Linked DNA regions of Homo sapiens: region 1 is linked to region 2. The links come from fine-mapping of genetic effects on gene expression. A gene starts in region 2. The other region holds a variant in brackets. All regions are shown on one strand. Distances are between the middles of the regions.

Region 1 (2,916 bases), 290 kb after region 2:
GTTGAGGCTGCAGTGAGTCATGATTGTGCTACTGCACTTAAGCCTGGGCAACAGAGTGAGACCTTGTCTCAAAAAAAAAAAAAAAAAAAAAAGAACTGGACAAAGTGTGTCAAACAATGATTTTGAGGCACCGGACAAGAGACAGTGAAGAATTATGATCCCTGAAAGACAGAAAACAAATGAAGTGAGTCCTATAATCATCCTCATTTTCTTCATGGAGACATTTTCCAAACCACAGAATATGAAGGTAAATCCAGGCAGAGCATGGCATTTTCTTTATAGGGCAGAGTTTAGGGGCTCTGGGCAGGCTAAAATATGTAAGTCAAAGTGCCAGAGTAGAAGGTACCATGGGGATAAAGCACTTCCTAAATCTGCACGGGGCCCCTTTTAGCATGTCTCTAAATACCTTGTCACCTCTGTGTAAGATAAATGTCCATGAAGTCAGGCTTTGCAAAGCTTGACCAGAGAATCTATTACTAAATACTTAGCCACATATGGCACATGCAGAGGATGAAGTTCTATGAGACAAGGCAAAGCATAACCAGAGAGGTATACCCTAAATCTCCAGCATTCTCACAGAGCTGGGAGATGTTTAACTTTTGATCAGGCAGAATGTAGATTCCTCATTGAAAACCTGGGAGATTCAGTAGAAACCCCAGAGGGTTGTGCCTAGTAGTAGGGCAAAGCTAGCCTAGAACTAAAGACTGTTCTAGATTCATCCTAAGAAGTCCTAAAAATGAGCTTTGAAAAGACCAACCTGATACACAGATAACTTTGTCAGATCCAATAGTATTTAGAGAAAGCAACAAAATCTAGTACTCAACGACATATATTCCATAAGGAGCATCCAATAAAAACGTACCAGACATGTGAAGAAGGAAAATGTGACCATAACTGGGATAAAATTAATCCATACAAACTCACAGCCAGCCTCTATGATGGTCCCTAATTTTTATCACCTCCTGGTATTCATTACTTTGTTTCTTTGCACATTGAATTAGAACTGGTCTGTGTGACCAGTGGAGTAGCAGATATGATTCCGTGTGGCATCCTAAGCTAGAGCATAAAGGACATTTTGGCTTCCATTCTCTTGGATCACTTGGTCCAGGGGAATCCGGCAGCTGTCAGGAACAGCCCTGTGATGGGGCCCATATGGAGAGGAACTGGGGTCTCCCACAAATAGCCAGCACAACTTGACAGTCATATGAGTTAGCCATCTTGAAAATGGATCTGATTCCAGCCCCAGTCAAACCTTCATATGTGTGCATTCTCAGCTGACATCTGACTAAATCTCATGAGAAACTTCAAGATAGTAAAAACCCATTAAGGCTGGGCACGGTGGCTCACGTCTGTAATCCCAGCACTTTGGGAGGCCGAGGTGGTGGATCACTTGAGGTCAGGAGTTCAAGACCAGCCTGGCCAACATGGTGAAACCCCGTCTCTACTAAAAATACAAAAATTAGCTGGGCATGATGGTGTGTGTGTCTGTAATCCCGGCTGTTTGGGAGGCCGAGGCAGGCTGATCACCTGAGGTCAGGAGTTTGAGACCAGTCTGGCCAACGTGGTGAAACTCTGTCTCTACTGAAAATACAAAAATTAGCCAGGCATGGTGGGGCGTGCCTGTAATCCCAGCTACTCGGGAGACTGAGAGGCTGAGGCAGGAGAATCGCTTGAACCCAGGAGGCGGAGTTTGCAGTAGTGAGCCGAGATTGCGCCACTGCACTCCAGCCTGGGCGACAGAATGTCATTCCATTTCAAAAAAAAAAAAAAAAA[A/AT]CTGGACATATTTGGAGGGTATTATTGTATTATTCTGCCTCCCAAAGCTGTTAAAATAATTAAGTGAAAAAACTGATGAAGTATTTTGTAATGGTTGGACCAGGCTGACAATACCTAAACACATTAGTGAATTTTACCATCTTAAACAGAGAGCCAGTCGTTAAGCACCTCCTAACATAATGGATTGAAAGCCCACAATGCCACCTTGCAAAAACAAACAGCAAACAAAACGAAGCACATCTCTGATCAAACCTGTCTTACCCATGTCAAGGGGTCAGAGGAATGTGCTAAAACATAATGCCATCAACAAAAGCCAAAATGTAGGATTCTAACTCTCCAGGACAAATGACCTGGTTTCTTTAAGAAATAAACTACAAGAGGGAGAAATAAAAAGAGGAGGGAGAATTTGTAGACTAAGAGTCTTAAGAGACACATTAACTATGGACTTTGTTTTGATTCTTATCAAACAAAGGTATTTAAAATATATGACTTGAGAAATTTTTAAAATATACTTTATATTTTGTTTAGGGCAATTTTAGGTTCATGGTGAAGTTGAGCAGAAAGTACAGTGAGTTCCCATATAGCCCCTGCCCCCTGACCTTCCCACTTGCAGGCTCTCACACTAGCAACCTACCACACTAGAGTGGTACTTTTGTTACAGAAGATGAATTTACATTAACACATTATTATCACCTGAATCCTATAGTTTACATTAGGGTTTACTCTTGGTGTTGTACATTCTATGGGTTTTGACAAATGCAAAATGACTTGTATCTACCATTACAATATTGTACAGAACAGTTTCACTGTCCTGAAACTCCTCTGTGCTCGGCCTATTTATCCCTCCCTCTCCCAAACCCCTGGCAACAATTGATCTTTTCACTGTCTCCAAAGTTTTGCCTTTTCCAGAATGTCCTACGGTAGGAATCATACAATATGTAGGCTTTTCAGATTGGCTTCTTTCACTTAAGATATATTTAAAGTTCCTTCATGTCTTTCATGGCTTGAGAGCTTGTTTCTTTTTAGCATGGAATAATATAACACTGATGTACCACGGTTTACCCATTTGCCTGTTGAAGGATGTCTTGGTTGCTTCCAAGTTCTTGAAATTATGAATAAAGCTGCTATGAACATCTGTGTGCA
Region 2 (2,916 bases):
AGAGTTTTGCTCTTGTTGCCCAGGCTGGAGTGCAATGGCACGATCTTGGCTCACTGCAACCTCTGCCTCCCAGGTTCAAGCGATTCTCCTGCCTCAGTCTTCGGAGTAGCTGAGATTACAGGCTCCCACCACCATGCCTAGCTAATTTTTGTATTTTTAGTAGAGACGGGGTTTCACCATGTTGGCCAAGCTGGTCTCGAACTTCTGACCTCAGGATATCCGCTTGCCTTGGTCTCCTAAAATGCTGGGTTTACAGGCGCGAGCCACCACGCCTGGCCTCTACTGCCACTTTCAATGGTCACATATTATCATGCACTGACATTTATTCACAAAATCCATTCTATGGGTTCTCCTTAATACACTGCTTAAGCAATGCTGAGAAAAACAAATTACTTGTATATCTATTTCCTAAAGGCATTTTATTTCTTTTTCTTTTTGAAAGATAGGGTCTTGCTCTGTTGTCACTGACATACCTCACTGCAGCCTAGAACTCCTGGGCTCAAGTGATGCTCCTGCCTCAGCCTTCCAAGTAGCTGAGACTATTAGAGTTGGGGGGGGGGGTCTCGCTATAATGCCCAGGCTGGCCTTGAACTCCTGGCCTCAAGCAATCCTCCCGCCTCAGCCTCCCGAAGTGCTGTGATTACAGGCGCGAGCCACCGCGCCTGACGAATAACAGATTTTATAGAAATAATTTTTAACCCAGAAGTTGCTATATTATGGAAACTGCTTATCTCATTATGCACCTTTCCATAAGTGTATGACATTGTATCTTAAATGTGTACATTAAAAATAAAACGCTGTACGTGCTTTTGTTCGTTAATTCACTTTAAAATTGTCACTTAAGTGCTCTCTAAGGGATTTCGGGGGGATCGGAAACCAGCTAGAGTTCTGTTTTTGTTTTTCTGCTCAGAAAGGCGGCCTGGGCGCTGGAGCCCTGCAAGGTGTCACCGTCCCAGGGGCTACGGAGCCCGCGGGAGGCTGATCCAGGCCCTGGGTGGCTCCCACAAAAGGGGCCCCTCTTCCTGCCCGCCTACTCCAGTGGCACTCAGTCCGGGCTTGCGACGCCTATTACCTGTTCATCTTGTCTCTATCGTTCAAGCCATTCTTCCTGAGCAAAAGGATCTGCTGCACTTTCGCCACATTACCCGCGCTGGCAGCTTTGTGGATCTTGCCGAGATCTCGGTCTCGGACGTGGTAGCCGGGCTGCGAGTAGGCGCCCTCCCCCGGCTCGCCCCCGCCTCCCGCGCTGCTCCTCTGCCGCCGCGCGAAGGAGCCCAAGGGCGACTCGCCCTTCTTACTAAAAATCTTCTTCATGGCCCAGGCGACCGGGCTTCAGAGACACCTCATGTCTCTCTCGGCTCTTAACGGCCTCCGGAGCCCAACATAACAAGTCAGCCCCGGCTGGCCGCAGCCTCCCAAAGGAAACTCCGCGGTTTCCAATCTCTCCCTCCGGGTTACCAAGCAAGCGATCCCGCTAGACACAAGTGCGCATGCGCACCTCAGATGGCAAGGTCCACGCGCGTGCGCACGAAGGCCCAGTGGTCAAGTGTGCTCCATGCGCATGTGCAAGGCCCAGACCTCGCAAATCTCGGCGACTGGGACGAGCCCTGCGTTCCTGTCAAACAAATGTCGGTGGGAGTCTGGCTGAGTGTTCAGGACGTTTGCGAAAAGAAGCCTCGCGCCTGTGGGGAAGCAGCCTTTACGCATGACTGGGACTGGAGTAGCGTGGAGTTTTAAGATGCTGAAAGCCTCTTCTCCGAGAAAACTCCCCTAAGAAACTCTCTGAATCTCCCTATCTCTCAGTTTATTCCCCTTCCATGTCCCTTTGGGTGCCATCTGGTCTCCATGAGAACTTAACAGATGCAACAACAGAGGGCACAGGATTTCGGAGATCGTGGCATATGTGTCAAGTGCAGAGGGCACAGGATTTCGGAGATCGTGGCAATATGTGTCAAGTGCAAACTTACGAGGAGAAACCAATGCACATTCTCCAGAAGAAATGAGAACGCATTTCTGCATGCCTCCTTCCCCCACCCCTCTGCCTTTGGCCCAGCCTTATGTTTTATTTTTTGCTTTTGATTTTCCAAGGTTACATCTCTTTCTTCTTTTTTTTTTTTTTTTCCCCAACAGAGTCTCGCTTTGTCGCCCAGACTGTAGTGCAGTGGTGCAATCACGGCTCACTGCAGTCTCCACCTCCTGGGCTCAACGATACTCCCACCTCAGCCTCCTGAGTGAGTAGCTGAGACTACAGACGCAAGCCACCACGCCCGGCTATTTTTGCATTTTTTGTAGAGACAGGGTCTCACCATGTTGCCCAGGCTGGTCTCCGACTCCAGGGCTCAAATGATGCTCCCATCTCAGCCTCCCAAAGTGCTGGGATTACAGGTGTGAACCACCACGCCCAGCCTAGATTGAATAATTTGACAACAAATTGGAATTAGCAACGCAGACGTCAAGTGGAGTCTCAGCAGAAATTGCTGCTGGAATGCACCTCCATAGCTCTGGACAGCTCTAGGGTCCCTTGTGGAGGAGGTGGCTGGCCCCAGAACAGGCGTCTTTATTGCCAAGTGAGAAATGAGCAAAAACAAAACAACACTTCTCAGGCCTCTCCAGCTTAGCTAGATCAAATGGTTTTGATGTGGGAGAGTGGTTTCCACTATCGTCACCAAGAATTTTCCTCCTACACTACCCCAGCTAGAAAGTTATGTTGTCTCCTCAACACTCCCCAAGGTGATCTATGAAGCTAGTCAAGTCCCAGCACTTTAGGAGGCCGAGGTGGGTGGATTACCTGAGGTCAGGAGTTCGAGACCAGGCCAACGTGGTGAAACCCCGTCTCTACTAAAAATACAAAAATTAGCTGGGTGTGGTGGTGCATGCCTGTAGTCCCAGCTACTCGGGAGGCTGAGGCAGGAGAAA

Alleles and levels. Positions count from the first base shown, and alleles are read on the strand shown. Sizes are in standard deviations (SD) of each study's normalised expression.
In carriers of allele A in region 1, the expression in Th1/17 cells of the gene that starts at base 1,482 in region 2 tends to be higher than with AT alone (large effect, 0.86 SD a copy in Schmiedel 2018).

Evidence for each region.
Region 1: its variant is fine-mapped to the expression of ANKRD26 in Th1/17 cells (Schmiedel 2018, PIP 0.95).

The regions. Positions count from the first base shown.
Region 1 is chr10:27,385,951-27,388,866 of GRCh38, forward strand. No RefSeq gene overlaps it. Among named protein-coding and RNA genes, the nearest start is that of PTCHD3, 27 kb to the right of the region's middle. The variant A/AT (reference allele first, on the strand shown) is at 1,774.
Region 2 is chr10:27,099,013-27,101,928 of GRCh38, forward strand. ANKRD26 (ankyrin repeat domain containing 26) reads right to left here and starts at 1,482. Exons shown (of 34, transcript NM_014915.3): 1 at 1,073-1,482. The coding sequence starts at 1,314. RefSeq lists an enhancer at 919-978 and a silencer at 1,149-1,328.